Linked DNA regions of Homo sapiens: regions 1 and 2 are each linked to region 3. Evidence: fine-mapped expression QTL. A gene starts in region 3. Each other region holds a variant in brackets. All regions are shown on one strand. Distances are from middle to middle. Region 1 overlaps RPN2 (ribophorin II). Region 2 has its middle 26 kb from the start of NNAT. Region 3 holds the start of SAMHD1 (SAM and HD domain containing deoxynucleoside triphosphate triphosphohydrolase 1).

Region 1 (5,000 bases), 280 kb after region 3:
TGCAGCTTTTCAAAGAATGGATAGATTTATATGCTGATAGGACAAGATTGCCAAGATGTGTTACTGAGTGAAAAAGGCAAGGGGTAGGGTAGTGTGTTTAGTATGATCCTCTGTAAAGTTTTAAAAGGTGGCTGGGTGTGGTGGCTCATGCCTGTAATCCCAGCACTTTGGGAGGCCGAGGTGGGAGGATTGCTTGAAGCTCAGGTGTTTGAGATCAGCCTGGGCAACATAGCAAGACCCCATCTCTACTAAAATCAGAAAATTAGAAAAAAAAAAATTAATGGTGACGTATGCCTGTAGTCCCGGCTACTTGAGGAGCTGAGGTGGGAAGATCACATGAGCCCAGGAAGTCAAGTCTGCAGTGAGCCATGCATTCTAACCTGGGTGACAGAGTGAGACCCTGTCTAAAAAAAAAATAAAAATAAGTTTTAAAAGGCGATATGTGTTAGTGTTGGTCATCTCTGAGGAGTGGACATTCTGGAGAATGTAGAGGAAGTAACTTTTACCTTTTCTCCTTTTCAGTACCATTTGAATTTTTTTTTTTAGCCAATTGTGTTTTTCTCTTTTTTCAAATTATAAACAAACATGAATGCATATCCTCAAAGCTCAGAGAATTTTGAGAAAACACTCATTAGATCTTACTTTTGGAAAGTTGCCTGTGTTCCTAATTGTTGCTTTTAACAAAAGAATTACTGTTTAAATCTAGATAAATCTAGAAGCCTTGCTACAGGTTTTCAGAAACCAGACCTAGGGTATGGGCACCTGTCCTTACATTTCAGTGATGAGAATTTCAAATGACATGGAACCCACGGCAAGAGCGTGAATGCCACCAGCTGCCGGTGGGTTTATCTTACCAATTCTTAGAGAACTTAGTGGGGGTGTCAGTTACCTTATAAATGCAGTTTCTGACCTTTCAGCTTCATGGTCTCACCTGTTTTAAAATAGTAGGGTTTGTCATCATTAAAAATGATGTTCAGGTTTGAGTTACACGAGCCCATTTGAGAGCAGGTGCTGAATGCCTTTCTAAAGAAAAAGGGAACAAGTTTCCCCGAGGGCTTATAATAGGGTGGTTGTCACTTGGAAGAATTGCCTGTCCTTCTAGGATGCATGAACTTTGAAGCCTTGGGGCTGTTGATGGGATTAGCATTGGCATGGCTTGTGTTGCTTCCCTTTTAAGTTCTAATGCCTTTTTAATTTATTTCTCCCCATCATTCAGTGGATCCGGATTGGTGCCAATGTCTCCAACTTCACTTTTGCTCCTAGCACGATTATATTTCACCTGGGACATGCTGGTAAGTGCCCCAGGCTGCTAATTACCTGTAACGTCCTCTGACATTTAGCCTGCCCACGCAAAAGCCCTGTTAAGTAGACCCACAACCTATTACCTATAATGACTTAATAGCATTACATTTCCCTCTTCCTCCTGGCCTTTTAGGACAGTTAATACGAAGATAAACCTGTTTGGTCCATCACTTAGAACAGCTGTCATTATATTGGGCTTTGTTGTACTGTGCCACTGTTGGCAGACCATTTACCCTCAGTTAATAACCCTGTTTATTTCCAGAGATTACTCACTTATCGTATCTTTACATTGAGCAATCTTCCTGGATGAAGAGCATTAATGCAGTTTCCAAAGGTTATCTTTCCCCACGCTATCGATCTTCACATTTGCTGCCGGCTCTGTCTGTGTAGTAATAGAAAACAGTCCTTTCCACAGTCAGACATGCTATCCTGCATCGTTCTCTGGAGACCTTAGGACTTCAACAGCCTAAACATAACAAGACAGTAAATTCACAAATCACTTAAGCATTTCTGAGGCTTTTGATGCTATTGGATCAGGGGTGCCTTGCATTTCACTGTGACTTTAATTTTTTGTTCGTTGTTTTTTTTTTTTTGAGACAGGGTCTTACTCTGTCACCCAGGCTGGAGTGCAGTGGTGCATTCATGGCTCACTGCAGCCTTGACCTCCCAGACTCAGGTGATCCTCCCACCTCAGCCTCCAGAGCAGCTGGGACTCCAGGCTTGTGTCACCACATTTAGCTAGTATTTGTATTTTTTGTAGAGACGGGGTCTTGCTGTGTTCAGAGCTGGTCTTGAACTCCTAGGCTCAAGCAGTCTTCCCGCCTTTGGCCTCCCAGAGTGCTAGGATTATAGGTGTGAGCCACCACGCCTGGCCTGACCTTAATATTTTTAAAATTCTTTGCCTCTTTCAGGAGTCACTATCTGTGCGCCCATAGTAAACAGATTCTGTAGGGGTGCATAGATAAGTCTCTTGAAATTCTAGGCAAATGTCTGTATTTTTCTGGGGAAAGAGAGAGTTGTGACTTTGATCAGATTATTATGGTGCAGTGGTCCGTGACCTCAGAAGTGGTTAAGAGCCCCGCTGTAGTTCATCCGTCATCTGTCTGGGCAAAACTGACAGGATGACCTTTCTCTCTGGCTCAGTTCCTGGATATGTATGATAGCCCTCTGGGGTCAGAC[C/CGA]GAGAAGAAAACCTGAATATAAATCTGTTGAGAGCCGTGGCTTTTCCTGCCATTGTGCTTTTTGTGCACGTTTTCTCATTTGATTATCATCATAGCCCTGATGAGGGTGACTGGGGCAGGAATTATGATCCCTTTTGACAAGGTGGGAGAATCTGGGCTCAGAGAAGTTAAGTGGCTGGTAAGGGCAGGGCCTGGACCAGGCCCCAGGGCTCTCCGTTCCCAGCTCTGAGCCCTTTTCACTCAGCCTTCTTCCTGAGTCCTCCTTGCTCCCTTCCTAGTCACAGTGGCAAATTATCCTTACAGTTTGTTTCCCCCCATAAAAAAAGAAATTATTCATTTATTTATATCCTGTTTATTTTTTATTTTTATTTTTTATTTTTTTGAGATGGAGTCTTGCTCTGTCTCGCCCAGGCTGGAGTGCAACGGTGCGATCTTGGCTCACTGCAGCCTCTGCCTCCCAGGTTCAGGCGATTCTCCCACCTCAGCCTCCCAAGTAGCTGGGATTATAGGCCTGCGCCACCACACCTGGCTAATTTTATATTTTTAGTAGAGAGAGGGTTTCACCATGTTGGCCAGGGTGGTCTCGAATGCCTGACCTCAAGTGATCCTTCTGCCTCGGCCTCCCAAAGTGCTGGGATTACAGGTGTGAGCTCCCGCACCCAGCCTATTTATATCCTGTGTATTTTTGTTAAGAATTTGAAAAATGAATGCCAAGTATAACATGACAGAGGAGTTTTAAACAAAAGCAGAGAAATAGTTGTAAGCAGGAACATGGCACAGGTCGCTGAAGTCCAATTGTTACCCCTGTTTGTGGGTGTGTGTGTGTTTTGAGACGAGGTATCACTGTCACCCAGGCTGAAGTACAGTGGTGTGATCAAGCTCACTGCATCCTTGACCTCCCAGGCTCAAGCGATCTTCCTACCTCAGCCTCCTAAGTAGCTAGGACTACAGACATGGACCATTACGCCTGACTAATTTTTTGAATTTTAATAGACACGAGGTCTCACTGTGTTGCCCAGGGTGGTCTCGAACTCCTGAGCAATCCTCCTGCCTCAGCCTCCCAAAATGTTGGGATTACAGGTGTGAGCCACTGTGCCTGGCCACACACTTGGCCACAGCTGAGAGGCGAATATATTGAGTTAGCTACTTTTTGGCATCAGAGCAAAGGAATAAAACAAGCTGGTATAGGAGTACAGACCTTTTCATGATCCAACAGTTGCTATGTCTAACTTTCCTCAACCGCAGGGCATCATTATGTTTCATTTAATTGGATGTCATGACACCTCTTCTTGCAGCTATGCTGGGACTCATGTATGTCTACTGGACTCAGCTCAACATGTTCCAGACCTTGAAGTACCTGGCCATCCTGGGCAGTGTGACGTTTCTGGCTGGCAATCGGATGCTGGCCCAGCAGGCAGTCAAGAGGTAAGGCCAGACATGAGCCAGGGATCTAGAGTAGGGTTAGAAATACTCAGCTCTGCCGGCCTAGCTCTTTGAAGGGTAGGTGGCAAAATGATTTGTGTTCTTAGGGGCAAGTCTGACACCCTAATCTAGCCCAGTACAGAAGCCAGAAGCACTTTGAAGTCAGAAAAGAGCCTTAGTGGTCAGCTTTGAATGTATTACAACCATTGTAATTGATGCCCCAATACAATAGAATGAGAGAGGAAAATTATTAGCTTTATGAAGATGAAAATGCATTCATAGATGTGGCAGAAGATTAATTTGTTAGCTGTGTAAAAATTCTCTGCTGCTACAGAGAATCCTGCCCTGCCCTCCCCACCCTCAACATGTCCCCGAGAGCTGCTCCTCTGTAACCCTCACAGCTCCAGGAGCTTGTCCCGGAAGCACGAGGTCTGTGTTATTTCCCACAGAAGCTGCAGCAGGTTTTGCAGAGGCTCCCAGCAAGGAGTATCTCCTCAGTAGCCTACACCATCTCCCCGGGACCCAGACAACCTTAGAGTCACATGGATGGTCAGACAGACCTTGACATGAGGGCAGCTTGCTGGCAGCTTGACTTTCTAAACAGAATTGGAGGCAAATTTAAATGTCACAAAGGTGTTTCTCATTGATTTGACTTTATTAGAACCTGAGTGATTTCAGACACGCAAAGGCCAGTAAGAACAGAATTGCTTTCACCTCTGGAAATCGTTTTCAGATGTGCCGCTTTCTTCTATCCAGGACGTTTGCTGGAAGAATGTAACTCAATAGTGTACCCTCAACGTGGCTGCCAGTTAGGGTGCTGGGATCAGAGAGAGGCTTTTTCAGGGAGACCATCAGTGGGTGGGAGAAGATGTCTCATCTCCGCCCGAGTCTCCATTGTGAGCTTTCTGAGCATTTCACCATGGAGACTCGGCACAGACGTGTTCCTTGGCTTTCCTGTAGGAATCCAGGGCCCACCAGAGCTTCCCTTAGCACCAGCAGTGGCAGCTGGTTCATTTTGCCACCCTCCAGTAGCCTTTTCCTGGTGGTTCTGCATTGTACCTGAGAAAGAGCCAGGACTCAGTTGCTTTTGCAAAGCA
Region 2 (7,760 bases), 540 kb after region 3:
GGTCTCCCTGCCTAGAGACTATCTTCTTCCAAATATAGTCTTCACACTGACCATCTCAGTGGTCTTCCCAAATAACAAATCTGAATGCATCACTCTAGTGTAAAAACTTTCAACAGTGCCCAGTGACTGCAGGACAGTGTCCAAACTCCTTGACATGGGGGCATCCAAGGCTCTGCAGGGTCTGGTCTCTGTCCACTTCATCTTGCTCTTCCCATCCCCTCCTTCTTTTGTCATAGTCCAGGAACACCAAATACCCTCCAGCTCACTCCTGCTGCTCCTCATTCCCAAGGCTATGCTTGTGCTGTTCCCTCTGTTTAAAAGGTCTTTCCAGTTCCTTCTAGCTTGCTCATTCCTGCTCATCTCTAAGGAGATAAGTCACCCTAAGACCAATGGTCACCTCTTCTGGAAAGTTCTGTGCATATTTATGTTTCGTTACTGCACTTACCATACTGTACTATGATGGTCCATTTAAATGCTGTGTAGTAGGATCATATTTTATATATTATTTGATGTGCTTCCCCACCCCCCACCACACTTCCTTGCCCATCACCATGTTGGTGCACAACAAACTACACCAAACATTAGTGGCTTACAAACACAATTTATTGGCCAGGTGCAGTGGCTCACACCTGTAATCCCAGCACTTCGGGAGGCCGAGGCAGGCAAATTACTTGAGCTCAGGAGTTTGAGACCAGGCTGGACAATATGGGGAAGCCCCATCTCTATCAAAAATACAAAAATTAGCCAAGTGTAGTGGTGCACGCCTATAGTTGCAGCCACTTGGGAGGCTGAAGTGGGAGGATTGCCTGAGCTTAGGAGGTCCGACGCTGCATTGAGCCATGATTGTGCCACTGTACTCCGGCTAGATGACACAGAAAGACCCTGTCTCAAAAACAACAACAACAAAAACAAAAACAGTTTATTATTCCTCATGGTTCCGGGGTTGATAGGGCTCAGCAAGGTGGTTCTTGCTTAAGTGTTTCATGCAGCTGCAGTCAGATGGCAGCTGGGGCTGGAGTCATCTGCAGGCTCATTCACATAGTTGACAGTCAGCTGGGGGCTTGCTGAGACCGTTGACTGGAGTGACCACATGTGGATTTACCACAGGACCTGCACTTCTCATAGCATGGCAGCTGGCTTGTAGGAGGGAGTGTTCCAAGGCCAAGCATTGCAAGAGGCCTGGCAGAGGCCATAAGGCTTCCTGCGACCTAGTCTTACAAATCCCAGAATGTGCCTTCTGCTATATTCTATTGGCCAAGAAAGTCACTAAGGCCAGCCTAGATTCATGGGGAGGGAATTACACTTCTCTTCCTGATACAAGGAGTATGATATATATCGCAGGAAGGCAAGTATTGGTGGTGGCCATCTTTGGAGACTAGCTACCAAGGTCACTTTTTCCTGATTCAGTCAGAGCTTTGCAGGATTTGGGTTGTTGCAGCATGAATGCAGTGAGAAAGATGGTCAGTAGTTTCAAAGAGTCTCTTGAAACTTACAGCAGACAGGATGCTTTGTTGCAGTAGCCGGGCTTTTGTAAAGAGGAAAGAGCTTGAGGGACTGAGCACTTGAAATTGATGCCAGAATGGTAAACAGGGAAGAATACAGAAGCTGTTTTTCTGCCTAAAAGGAAATAAAAGTTTGACCAGCTAGTGGGAATAAAGGAATCACAAAGAGATGTAGCTCATAGTAGATACTAGAGCTCCCAGAGTAAATTTGAGGTATCCCAGAGCAGAAGGGACTGTTGCCTGGCTCCTCAGGTGTTGCCTGAGAGAACACAAGCTCCTGGCATGGGCTGGAGAGAGGCTGAGGACCCCTGGTGGGAGAAGGTGGCTGGGAGGTGTCCTCCAGGGTCCTGTTTGTCTTTGTAACACGGTGGTGATGGTGAGGGTGTAGAGAAGAGGGTGAGTGTAGCCGGTGGACTTGGAGGTGCCTCATGGTCAGGACAAAGATTTAGTAGGGATTCTGTGGCTCAGTGGATGGCAGTGGATAGTTGCTGGCAGACCTGAATCACTTGTATGCCCCTGGTGCCAGGTCAGAATAGAAGCTCCCAGAACACTGACTACCCACAAGGAGAAGGAGCAGTGGGAAGCAGAGGAGCTGGAAGTGGACCAAGAATCTACTTAAGATAGTCTTTTGAAATGTCCAGATGTGGCTGGGTTTACCTTCAACTAAGTTTGTGCTACTGAGCAGAATGGAGTGGCAGTGGTGTTGGGAAGAGTTAACCTGAGTAATGAAGCAACATTTTGGAGAGGCTCTGTTTGTAGGTTTCTGGGCTAGCACCTGGGGCCACCTTCAACCTTTCATTCTGTCTCATCTCTCCCGTGCACTTGGCACCATGCCCCCTATTTCTACCTCCAAAACTTCTCTTGCCTCCGCCTTCTCTCCATCTGCACTGTTGCTTAGCTCAGACCTGCGTTATTTCTCACCTGGACAACTGTGGTGCCTCTTAGGTACTTCCCTACCTCCAGGCTGTTGGGGCCTGATCAAACCCTTTTCTGCTGGCAGCCAGAGGGATGACCTCTGTTCTTTTTCTAGAACTGCGCCAATCCTTCTTGGAAATCATTCTGCACCCCAACCTATTTGCTTTGAAATTCACCTTCTCATTTATTGCACAACCCACTTTAATGGCCATCATTGATTTGCCAGAGGTGAACCCCAACTCAACTGGGCCAATGGAAGCTTTTGTCTAGATTTCTGGACTTGGGAACAGAGAGAGCTCATAACATGTATGGAGCACTTAGTGTCCATCCCCGAGGTAAGTACTTGATGGACATCATCTCCTTTGACCCTCACAGCATTAAGCTGGTGCTGTTGTTATCCCCATTTCCTATGTGAGGACACTGAAGACAGAGAAATTAGACAAAACAATGAGTAAGCAAGTAGCCCTGATGCTTAACCAAGTTCCTGCGCTCCTACCTCGATCTCTTTGTGGTCATGAACCTGAGAGGTGTGAAACATTGGCAGTCACGAACGCCAGTGTGTGGAAGAGGCATCCCTGAGAGAGGGAGCTGGCAGGCAAAGAGACGTGGAGACATGGAGATGGGAGAGGGGCAGGCTGCCAGTTAAGTCCCTGGCCCCGGGGGACCGGAAGGTCAACTGAACCTAGCTTGGCCTGTGGTTTGCGTATAGAAGCCAATTAAGTTCCTTCTGTGCCTGAGCTGGTTTCAGTTGAGCTTCTTCCACTGGCAAAGAAACTTAACTAAATGAAAGTGATCACACCTGTCTCCCTGCTTAAGAACAGCCACGGCCAGGCATGGTGGCTCACGCCTGTGATCCCAGCACTTTGAGAGGCCAAGATGGGCAGATCACCTGAGGTCAGGGGTTCGAGACCATCCTGGCCAACATGGTGAAATCCTGTCTGTACTAAAAATATAAAAATTAACTGGGCGTGGTGGCACACGCCTGTAATCCCATCTACTCGGGAGGCTGAGGCAGGAGAATCGCTGACCTGGGAGGCAGACATTGCAGTGAGCCGAGATCATGCCACTGCACTCCAGCCTGGGCAACAGAGTGAGACTCCGTCCATTAAAAAGCAAAACAAAAGAAAAAACGGCCACTGGTTCCTCATTACCCTTGGATAGAAGCTCACTTCTTGTCATGACACAGCAGCACTGCAGGTGCAGCCAGCCTGATCTGTCACTGATCTCCCTCCTGCCACACCCATGCCCCCAACCCTGTGTGTCTCAAATCGGCTGGACTCCCTGCAGTTCCCTTAAGAACCCAGGAAGGTTGCTGGCCCTCCAGGATCAGGTGAGGTGAGATCCACCCACAGCTTGCTCCTCATCCCCAGCTCTAACGCCCCTTGAATCCATCTAGGATTTCACCTGGGCAGTCTCACCAGCTGTGGGCCTTTCCTTTTCTGGAGTCAAAACTTAGCTTCTCTTATGTGTCAGCTCCTAAGAACATTTGACAACATCTTAGAAAACTGCAAAGTATCCAAATGTACCCAGAGGCAACCACTGTTCACATCTTGACACACTTGTTAT[C/T]AGAATTGTTTGTTTTTAGGGACAGTGCCTGGTTCTGCTGACCAGGCTGGAATGCAGTGGCTATTCACAGGCACAATCACAGCGCACTGCAGCCTTGAGCTCCTGGGCTCAAGTGATCCTCCTGCCTCAGCCTCCCAGGTAGGTGGGAATACAGGTGCATGATGTGCCTGGCTTATCAGAATTTTTTTTTTTAATCCAAGAGAATAGAAGGGCTTTTGATGAAGAGCAGCAAGTTCGGGATGGACCCTCTCCCAACCCCAAACTCTTACCCGAGAGTGTGTGATCTCTGCTCCTGGAGGTTGTCTCCTAGCTGTAAGCTCTCAGCTTGTATTAGGAAGAATGCTTTCACCAGAACGTAATATATCACCTAAAAGTGGCTAAGCAACAAGAACATTTATTTCAAGTAATGAAAAGTTCAAAAGTCAGTGGTTCCAGGTATCTGAGATCTGAGTGAACAGAGAACCATGAGTCTCCTGGCCTTCCCCTCCTGGTCACAAGATAGATAGCTGTCAGGGCTCCAAGCACTATGTTTTCACTCAACAGCACCTAGGCAGAAAGAAAGGGGGCAGCCAAGAAACTTCTCCAAGTGCATCCCTCTTTTTCTTTTCTTTTTTCGAGACACGGTCTCACTCTGCCACCCAGGCTGGAGTAGAATGGCATGGTAGTAGCTCACTGAAGCCTCAACCTCCCAAGCTAAAGCAATCTCCTCACCTCAGCCTCTTGAGCAGCTGGGACCACAGGTGCATGCCACCACGCCTGGTTAACTTTTGTATTTTTTGTAGAGATGGGGCTTCACAATGTTGCCCAGGCTAGTCTCGAACTCCTAGGCTCAAGCAGTCTGCCCGCCTCAACCTCCCAAAGTGCTGGGACTACAAGGCGACAGCCACTGTGCCTGGCCCCACATGCATCTCTTTAATTAGGGAGGAAAGTGTTTCCCTGAAACTGCCTGAAGATATCCCCTTACAAGTCCCAAGTCAAAACTGGGTCATGGGAGCCCTCTAGACAGCATCTGCTACACCCCATTTCTAGTTCATAAGATCCACTGATGTCCCAGTGGATTAGGCATTGGGTCACTTGGAAACTACTCCCCTCTATCCCTACCTCTCCTAACACAGTCTTTAAGTACCTCTGTTGGTTATCTTTTTAAGAAACCTACTTGCCCCTTCATTCCTTATTCTACCACATGTCCACAGAAGCTCTTGCCTCCCCACTATTGTCCCTGTCAACCTTCCTACCCTCTTCCCTTCACTGCTACCTCCCAACTTTTATATCTTTACTTTCACATTGTGACAGATGATAATGTTGACATTCTATTCTGCAACCATAATAAAATTCAGGTCAATACAAAAGTTGAATATTAATGAAAACTAGAAAGATAACATTTTCATTATTTAAGTATACCATATATTTCCTCTGGGTATCTATATATGTAAGTTTTTAGAAACGTCTAGAAAAGTCCACATTGAGCCCATTACTGTGGTTACCTCTGGAGAGGAGGAAGGGAATAGGGTGGCAGTGGGTGGCCAAAAGGGACTCCAGCTTCATCTGCAATGTTCTCTTTTTTAAAAAAGGGGAACGTATTCATGTTTTGCTTGTGTCATTCGACTTCAATTTTTTAAAAAATTACTATTTATTTTCAGCCAATAACGTGGGCTCCGTGTGTTTGGATGTGCTTGCATGTTTGTGCCCAGGGAGGAGGAATATTTACTTTGTGTGTGCCTGTGAATGAAGTAGAGTGATTAGTAAGCAGATGAAAAAGAAATGTAGCAAGCAAAAGCAAAACAAAAAAGGGGGCTGGAGAAAACTAATTCACAACAATAATAAAAAGTATAGGAATAAACCCATTAGGAAATGGGCAAGTTCTTTATGGGGAGAACAACAGTGCATGAGTGAAGGACATACAAGATAATAAGAATAAACGTAGAGCTCTACTGTATTCATGAATTCAAAGGCTCGGTATTGTATTGATGTCAATTTCTCCAACTTGACAAGCTGGCTTTACAATTCATGTGGAGGAGTTAGTGTGCGGTACTAGTTAGCTAAGAGAGCTGAGAAGGAAGCACAACGAAACATGGCATTTGACTTCACAGATACCAAAAGGTGGGACAGCAAAGAAAACAGTCTTGTACTGAAAGGAATAAATGGATTGTTGGGAAAAACAGGGGCTTCAGACACACCTGACTCAGAATATCAGGGAGTTTTACTTCAGGTCAGAGGGGAAAGGAAGAACTAGTCAACCCCTCATACTGCAATAATTGGCTGCCCGTTTGGAGAAAGGTTAGATCATATATCAATATGATAATCAAAATATATTCCAGATGCATAAAGAACCAAATAAAAACAAAATTATAAAATTATTAGAAAAGAAGAAATAATATATTTAAATCTTAGGAGTAGGGAAGGACTAAACATGGTATCTGTATAAAAAAGGATCAAAGGAAAAGATTGATAAATTGGATTATGTCAAAACTAATAACTTCTAACAAAAGATTCTACAAAGAGTTAAAGGCAATGACAAGCTGGAAGAAAATATTTGTCACATATCTACAAAAGATCAATATCCAGATTATATTACAAAACTCCACAAGCCAGTGGGATAAAGACAACCTAATGCTTAAAATGAGAAAAAATAACAGGCAATTCAGAAAAGAGAAAATACAAATGCTCAATATACATATGAAAATCTCACAAGCAAACAGGAAAATACAAATTTTAAAAAGGATTCAATTTTTCACCCATGAGATTGGCAAATATTTAAAACAACCGCCTATGGGTGTGGGGATTACAGCCCTCTCATACCCTCTGGCTGGAAGCTTAAATGGTACAGAAATCATGGAGGACAGTGGTAGTATCTGCTAAAACTAAAACTGTGGACATATTAAGACCCAACATTCCATTTCCCAATCACTCCCAGAGATATCCCACCACAAAGGAACATGCAATGTGGTTTCTGCAGCACTGCTCATGATGGAGGAAAGAAAAAGAAGCAATTAAATGTCCATGGAGCTTACAGAAGATAAAATGTGGTACATTCATGGGAATGAATACAACATAGCTATTAAAGGCAAAAGCAAGCTATGTGTAGCAATAGGAGTATATTGTAAAAATGTAACACTGAGTGAAAAAAACCTGCAGCTTATAGTAAAATCGCTATAATGTGGTATGACTCATTGAAAATACATCAGGACTATGTGTTACTATGGATGGAGATACATAAAACTGTGGAGGGGGTGGGAAATGAGGACTCCAGAGGGTGGCCAAAGGGGACTACAGTTATATTCATATTGTCCTACTTTTAAAAAGGAGAATGTATGCACACTTTACTTGTTTAATTAAAGTATAATTTGAAAAGATTCTAATTTGTTTTCAGCCAATTATGCTGCCTCTGTGCGTCTGGCTGTGCTCAAATTTTTGTGCCCAGAGAGGGAGAACGTTTACTTTGTGTGTGTCTGTGAATCAAGCACAGTGATTAGTAAACAGGTTGAAATGGGATATGAAAAAACAAGGGCCAAACAAATAAGAGCAGAGGGCAACCTATTCACAGTTAACAGCAAAACCTATAATATACCTAGGAATGAATTCAACAAGAAATATGTCAGACTTTAACCAGAGAAAACCATAAAACTGTCCTGAAAGATGTAAAAGATGACCTGAATTGAGAATAGAGCAATGTGCCGTGGTAGGAAGACTCTATATGATAAAGATGTCAGTTTTCCTTAAATTTATCCATAAACTCAGGCCAGGTGCAGTGGCTCATGCCTGTAAACCCAGCACTTT
Region 3 (7,760 bases):
GCGATCACATCTCACTGCAGCCTTGACCTCCTGGGCTCAAGCGATCCTCCTGCCTCAGCCTCCTGAGTAGCTGGGACCACAGGCATGTGCCACTGCACCTAGCTAATTTTTATTTTTATTTTTTGTAAAGTTGAGGTCTCCTGATGTTGCCCAGGCTGGTCTTGAATTCTTGGGCTCAAGTGATCTTCCCACACTGGCCTCCCAAAGTGCTGGGATTATAGGTATGAGCCACTGGGCCAGGCCTCCAGTGGTTTTTGATGAGAATACTTGTTAAGGTATAGATCACATGAGTTCTAGAGTCCAAAGACCTAACCTTAAAAAATCTAGCTCTTTTTTGTAGTGGTGTGATCTCTGAAAAGTTACTTTACATCTTTGGACCTCGCATACATCATCGGTAAAATGTGTTGAGTGTAGTAACTTATTTCAGACTTCTTGTGAGGCTGTATTCCATAATGAGAAAAGGGACACTGTACCTTGTGCTTGGCTTATCAAATTAAAAAAAAAATGGACTTAGATAAAGAGAGACTTTTTTTTTCTTTTCCGAGATGGAGTCTCACTCGGTCGCCCAGGCTGGAGTGCAGTGGCGGGATCTTGGCTCACTGCAACCTCCGCCTCCCAGGTTCAAGTGATTCTCCTGCCTCAGCTTCCCAAGTAGCTGGGACTACAGGCACATACCACCATGCCCGGCTAATTTTTGTATTTTTAGTAGAGACGGTGTTTCACCATGTTGGCCAGGCTGGGCTTGAATTCCTGACCTCAGGTGATCTACCTGCTTCGGCCTTCCAAAGTGCTGGGATTACAGGCGTGAGCCACCGTGCCCGGCCAAGAGAAACTTTATTAGAAAGAAAGACTATTGCTGGTCGGGCGTGGTGGCTCACACCTGTAATCCCAGCACTTTGGGAGGCCAAGGCGTGTGAATCATCAGGTCAAGAGATTAAGACCATCCTGGCCAACATGGTGAAACCCCATCTCTACTAAAAATACAAAAATTAGCCAGGTGTGGTGGTGGGCACCTGTAGTCACAGCTACTCAGGAGGCTGAGGCAGGAGAATTGCTTGAACCCGGGAGGCAGAGGTTACAGTGAGCCGAGATCACACCACTGCATTTCAGCCTGGCGACAGAGCGAGACTCTGTCTCAAAAAAAAAAAAAAAAGAAAAGAAAAAAAGAAAAGAAAAGAAGAAAGACTATTTCTACAGGGAGAAAGCTCCAATATCAGATATCTGCAAGAGGCTCAGGAATCAAACACATAGGCCGGCCGGGCGCGGTGGCTCACGCCTGTAATCCCAGCACTTTGGGAGGCAGAGGCGGATGCATCACCTGAGGACAGGAGTTGGAGACCAGCCTGGCCAACATGGTGAAACCCTGTCTTTACTAAAAACACAAAATTAGCCAGGCGTGGTGGCGTGCACCTGTAATCCCAGCAACTAGGGAGGCTGAGGCAGGAGAACCACTTGAACCCGAGAGGCAGAGGTTGCAGTGAGCTGAGATTGTGCCGGTGCACTTCAGCCTGCGTGACAGAGCGAGACTCCATCTCAGAAAAAAAATAAAATAATAAAATAAATTTTAAAAAATAATCAAACAGAGGCCCAAGAACCAAACAGAGGTTGGGCATGGTGGCTCACACTTGTAATCCCAGCACTTTAGGAGGCCGAGGTGGGTGGATGGTCACTCGAAGCCAAGAGTTTGAGACCAGCCTGGCCAACATGGCAAAACCCTGTCTCTAATTAAAAAAAAAAAAAAAATGAGGCCGGGCGCGGTGGCTCACGCCTGTAATCCCAGCACTTTGGGAGGCTGAGGCAGGCGGATCACGAGTTCAGGAGATGGAGACCATCCTGGCCAACATGGTGAAACCCCATCTCTACTAAAAATACAAAAAAATTAGCTGGGCGTGGTGGCACATGCCTGTAATCCCAGCTACTCGGGAGGCTGAGGCAGGAGAATAGCTTGAACCAGGCAGTTAGAGGTTGCACTGGGCCGAGATGGCGCCACTGCACTCCAGCCTGGCGACAGAGCGAGACTCTGTCTCAAAAAAAAAAAAAAAAAAAAAAAAGAATCCAACAGAAAAAGGGTCTTCTTTTATATGATAAAGGACGGGCAAGCAGAAATAAGCAGAATCTTTGGATAGGAACCTGGACGAGCAAGGGAAAATGAGCAGTGTAGCCCAACAGGACAGCATCCTACTGTGGTCAGCCGGTTCTCAAAAGAAACTGACCAGAGGGAGGCATATTCCACTGCTTTAGTGCCTGCCTGGTCAGATCTGGGGGTAAGCAAGAGTTGAGGGGCCCATAAGGGAAGAGAGAAGTCCGAATAAAGTTTGGTCAAGACAAAGCAGAAGCTAAGACATGAGCAATTGGGAACAGTTGGTCAGTTTTTACCAAATGAAAGCACATAGTGTCTTTGATAGCAATAGGTTGTAGGTTTAAGGAACACACATCATTCTGGAGGGTAACGAGTTAATCTACAAACCACTGAAACAGAGAGCCAACCACATTTTGAGACAGAAAATATGGAACTACTTCACTCCACTTGTTGCTAGTCAAAGAAAATAAAGTAATAATCCATCCCAGCAGTGGAGGGAAACGAAAGGGCAAAAGGGGGAAGAAAAAAAAAAAAGGAGAAATGCAATTTCCCATACCCATTCAAGCTATCTTTGGGTCCTGAACCACTAATGTTCCTCCTACCCCAGTTTCCAACCTAGCCAAACAGGGCCCCACCTAACAAATGCAAAAATTTACTAAATTTGCAAATCCCAACCACCAAAGAATCACCTTCCTATTGGACACCTAGAGGATATAAGGCAGGAGTCAAATCTCACACCCACCACAAAAAGTTGAGTAGAATTCACAAGGATGGATGCTTGGATACGAATCAGTAAAATATGATTAAAACTCAACCTAAACACTTCTCCAGGGGATGTGGCCAAACTGTGGCATGCTGGGGATTCAGTGGTCAACTGAACAACCCCAAGGTTCAGATTTTGGAGGGGAACCTGCTTTTAAAGAGCAAAACATGTTCCTTACCATGTTCTGCAAGTGCAGTCAACACACGCCTATCGGGCGCTGCTGGGATGCCAAGGAAGGTGATGGGAATTCAGAGATTAACCAAGCCAGTTCCTTCCCCTTCAGGAAAAGCCTCAATTCAGGGAGGAAACCGAAACCTAAAAGCCCCAGAACATCCTCTGATGTGGCAAGTGTTCAAGGAGCTGCGGTTAGCGCGGAGGGGTCCCGCGAGCCTGGATGACAGCAAGCCGCCCACCAAGGTCTGGGGAAAAATCTCCTTCTAACTAAAAAAAAGGGACCCGAGTCTCGCTTGTCCCGCGCCGGGGTGGCAAGTTAGTGAAGAAACCCACGAGAGTGAGATCCCAATCTACGACTGCCCCTCCCAGGTCCTCAATCCCGGGAGCCTGCTCCCATCCTACGAATCGCCTATCCCAGGCGACCCCATGTCTTCTTCCTCCGCCTCGGGGAGTCAGTCCCGGGAGCCCCATGCCGCAGGCCCTCCTGGGAACCCCCGCCGCAGGGCTCCCTCCCCCGCCTCGGGTCTTCCTTTCCTCGGCGCCCCCAGCGCAGGTCCGCCCTCCCGGGTGCCTCCCGCCGCAGGGCTCGCTCCTCGGCCTCGGTCCTCTCGTGGGGCCCCCTCCCTCAGGGCGCCTGGCCCGCGCCCCAGGTCGCCGCCCTTCGCCCCTCAGCCCCTCCGGAGCCGCTACCTCGGATGTTCTTCAGCAGCACCGGCTCTTCAAAGCCACCGCGCCTGAGGAAGGAGCACACCTGCTCCGGACCCCATGTCTTGTAGTCGGGATGGAGTTCCAGGCCCGGGGACCAGTCTGCCTCTGCGGAAGGGGTGTTTGAGGGGGTTCTCGGGCTGTCATCGCAACGGGGACGCTTGGAGGGCTGCTCGGAATCGGCTCGCTGCATGGCTACACCTGGCGTCCGGCACAGCAGTCAAGAACCTCGGCGCCGGACCCGCGCGCAGGCGCACTGACAGCAGGGCCCTGGCGGGGAGTCCAAGGAGTATTGGCAGCCTATTGGCCTCCTGCGCAGGCTCACTGACAGTTGAGCCCTTCGGGCAGGGCAGCCTAGCGGCTCTTGCCTTGGGCTCCCTGCGCAGGCGCAATGGCAGTCCAGTCGTCCTCAAATCAATCCCGCCAGGGCGCTGGACGTGAACGCGAAAGGGCGTGGCTAGAAGCAGAACTGAGGGCAGTGCTGGTGGAAAGGGGGAGGAAAGAGCGCGCCCGGCACCGCACCCCCAATTAGGGGCTCGTCTAGTGAATTGGGGGTATTCTCCTTCGAATGAGTACACTACCCGCCGCACCTTGGCCGGGTTTCAGATGCCCCAAACTTAAAAGAAGCCTAAAAGGCCGTCAGGCTGCCAGCACCTTCCCAGTGAAGAGGAAAACAGTCAAGGTGCTGAACTGGAAGAACCCGGAATGATTTCAAATGTGACTTGAGGGTGTCTTCATTCCACAGTATTGCTGGTCAACTAGAGGGCCCTGGGATACCTGTTGTCTGGTGTCCACACAGGAGGGGACTTCAGACTTCTTTCCAACTAGAGACAGAGCCCTCCATCCCAACTGCATTCCCAGAGGAAGGAAAGTGGCCAGTCTGATTACTTAAAATTTAACTTCTGAGGACTTTTACTGCCTGGTTGTAACAGCATGTGAAAATGGCAGGCATTTTCCCATCACTTAACCCCTCTGCGGCAGGGCTCAAACTTCCCTATAAATACTGGTCCATGCAATTGCCTGGTAAAAGGACATATCACTATTACTGTTAATAAAGCCAACACACCTTCCCAGCAACCAAGGCATAGACCTGTTTAGGGGGTCAAGGACGAATGAGGCGGAATAGCTTATCATCAAGCAGTATGAACTAGTGGTCTACTGGTGAGCCAAAATATTATTTGCAAACAGAGCTTTACTGTGTGCCAGGCACGGTTCTAAGGGCTTTACAAATATAAAATAATTTTATATTTATACATAATACTAAATGAATTAAGTACATTCATTAAATTATTTAAATATTAAATAATTTTTATAACTTCTAAGGGTTTTACAAATATTGTAAAGTTCTAAGGGCTCTACACATATTACTTCACTTAATTATCACAATTACCTTAGGATGTAGGAAAAAGTAATTTGCCGCAGGTCTTCTTTTTTTTTTTTGAGACGGAGTCTTGCTCTGTTTCCCAAGCTGGAGTGCAGTGGCGTGATCTCAGCTCACTGCAACCTCTGCCTCCCAGGTTCAAGTGATTCTCATGCCTCAGACTCCCAAGTAGCTGGGACTACAGGCGCCTGCCACCACACCTGGCTAATTTTTGTATTTTTAGTAGAGACAGGATTTCACCATGTTGGCCAGGCTGGTCTTGAACTCCTGACCTCAGGTGATTCCCACACCTCAGCCTCCCAAAGTGCTGGGATTACACAGCCGTACCCAGCTGCCCAAGGTCTTACAGCTAGGAAATGATGAAGCCTGTATTCAAACCCAAGAGATGTAACTTGGTTCCAAAGTCCATGGTCTTGATAACTTGCCAACCACTGCTTGTTAAAGGGGGTTTGGGGCTGGGTGCAGTGGCTCATGCCTGTAATCCCAGCACTTTGGGAGGCCAGAGCACTCACTTGAGGCCAGGAGTTCAAGGCCAACCTGGCCAACATGGTGAAACCCCATCTCTACTAAAATACAAAAATTAGCCAGGCCTGGTGGTGCATGCCTGTAATCCCAGCTACTCAGGAGGCGGGGGCACGAGAATCACTCAAATGTGGGAGGTGTAGGTTGCAGTGAGCCAAGATCTTCCCGTTGCACTCCAGCCTGGGCAACAGAGCAAGACTCTGTTTCAAAAATAATAATAATAAAAAATAAATAAATAAGTAAAGGGGGTTTTGATATAAAACTATTTTCTATTATTTAACCCACAATTTTCAATGGCTCCCTTTTCCTGCAGACCCATGGAGGAAAGTATAAAGGTGTTCCTGCCAGGCGCAGTGGCTCACGTCTGTAATCCCAGCACTTTGGGAGGCCGAGGCGGGTGGATCACCTGAGGTCAGGAGTTCGAGACCAGCCTGGCCAACATGGCAAAACCCTGTCTCTACTAAAATTACAAAAATTAGCTGGGTGGCCAGGCGCAGTAGCTGTCACCTGTAATCCCAGCACTTTGGGAGGCCGAGGCGGGTGGATCACAAGGTCAGGAGTTCAAGACTAGTCTGGCCAACATGATGAAACCCGTCTCTACTAAAAATACAAAACAATTAGCTGGGCATCGTAGCAGGCACCTGTAATCCCAGCTACTTGAGAGGCTGAGGCAGAGAATTGCTTGAACCTGGGAGGCGGAGGTTGCAGTGAGCTTGGATCGCGCCACTGCACTCCAGCCTGGGCAACAGAGCGAGACTCCGTCTCAAAAAAAAAAAAAAAAAAATTAGCCGGGCGTGGTGGCAGCCGCCTGTAATCCCAGCTACTCAGGAGGCTGAGGCAGGAGAATCGCTTGAACCTGGGAGGTGGAGGTTGAAGTGAGCCATAGCCTGGGAGACAAAAGTGAAACTCTATCTCAAAAAAAAAAAAAAAAAAAGAGTTGTTTTCCATCTGCACACAAGGCCAGGCCCCCCAAAAAAATGCCCTCAAACACTAGAGAACTTTGTGAAAAGACCTGACAGTTGCCAAGACTTGCGAAACCAAAACGGGATAAGAAAACAAATAGCATATGTATGAAAGACTTAATCTCAAGTCAGAAATGGCTGATTTAAAAACTTGTGTTTATAAGACCTGTGGGGAAACCTGCCCTGACATCAAGGTTTCCTGGACAATAGAAGGTGTTATAGCAGGGTTTTTAGTTTAATCAACTGTGTTTGTTCAAAGCAGCTGCTTTTAAGAATTTTTAGTTTTTTAATTTCATTTTTTTATTTTAATTTTAATTTTAATTTTTTTTGAGACAGAGTCTTGCTCTGTGGCCCAGGGTGGAGTGCAGTGGTGCAATCTGGGCTCACTGCAAACCTCTGCCTCCCGGGTTCAAGCGATTCTCCTGCCTCAGCCTCCTGAGTAGCTGGGATTATAGGCACCCGCCACGACGCCCAACTAATTTTTTTGTATTTTTAGTAGAGACGGGGTTTCACCATGTTGGCCAGGCTGGCTTTGAACTCCTGACCTCAAGTGATCAGTGAACTCCTGACCTCAAGTGCCTTGGCCTCCCAAAGTGCTCAGATTACAGGCATGAGCCACCGCACCCATCCAGAACTTTTATTTTCTGTTTTTGTTTGTTAAAAAGTATAATTTATTGCCATACTTATTATATTTTCCCTAATTCCCTACTTTCAAGGGGCCTTTGATCTTGCGCTAGGTCATTAGTTACTTGTTCAGGGTCAACATGGCTGGTAAGGGACAGAGAGAGGATTCAAAGGCAGTGCTCCCTCGCTCCAAAGTATAGGCTCTTTCCAGTTTGCCACTTCATTTAACTCCTCTTACAGTCCTAACGATCCTTTTCCATCATAATTCCACAGCCTGGGAACCAACACCCACTGGACACAGGCCCTGGACTCTGGCCATAGTGAGAGAAATGACTGCTCAAGCTGCCCTCTTCTAAAGTCAATCTCAGTATGGTTAGGACTAGAAAAAACAATAAGATCAATTAATTTAAGGCCCACTGCCCAATGACCTTGAATAAGCCCAGCAAGCTTTCCCTGACCTTATCTATTTACCTTCCACCCAGCCAGGCAAGCTGGGCAATTTTATTTCTGGCAGCATTCACCTGTGGTTTTTACATCTCTTCACAGCTT

The links. PIP is the estimated chance that this variant, and not a neighbour inherited with it, causes the effect. A credible set is the group of variants that fine-mapping cannot tell apart.
Region 1: its variant is the best candidate, but not a certain one, in a credible set for the expression of SAMHD1 in whole blood (TOPMed, PIP 0.50).
Region 2: its variant is the best candidate, but not a certain one, in a credible set for the expression of SAMHD1 in whole blood (TOPMed, PIP 0.50).

The regions. Positions count from the first base shown.
Region 1 is chr20:37,232,804-37,237,803 of GRCh38, forward strand. RPN2 (ribophorin II) reads left to right here. Exons shown (of 17, transcript NM_002951.5): 15 at 1,217-1,292; 16 at 3,777-3,906. Among named protein-coding and RNA genes, the nearest start is that of GHRH, 27 kb to the right of the region's middle. The variant C/CGA (reference allele first, on the strand shown) is at 2,482.
Region 2 is chr20:37,491,333-37,499,092 of GRCh38, forward strand. No RefSeq gene overlaps it. Among named protein-coding and RNA genes, the nearest start is that of NNAT, 26 kb to the right of the region's middle. The variant C/T (reference allele first, on the strand shown) is at 3,984.
Region 3 is chr20:36,947,729-36,955,488 of GRCh38, forward strand. It overlaps SAMHD1 (SAM and HD domain containing deoxynucleoside triphosphate triphosphohydrolase 1), which reads right to left and starts at 3,980. Exons shown (of 16, transcript NM_015474.4): 1 at 3,708-3,980. The coding sequence starts at 3,915. RefSeq lists a silencer at 3,475-3,694.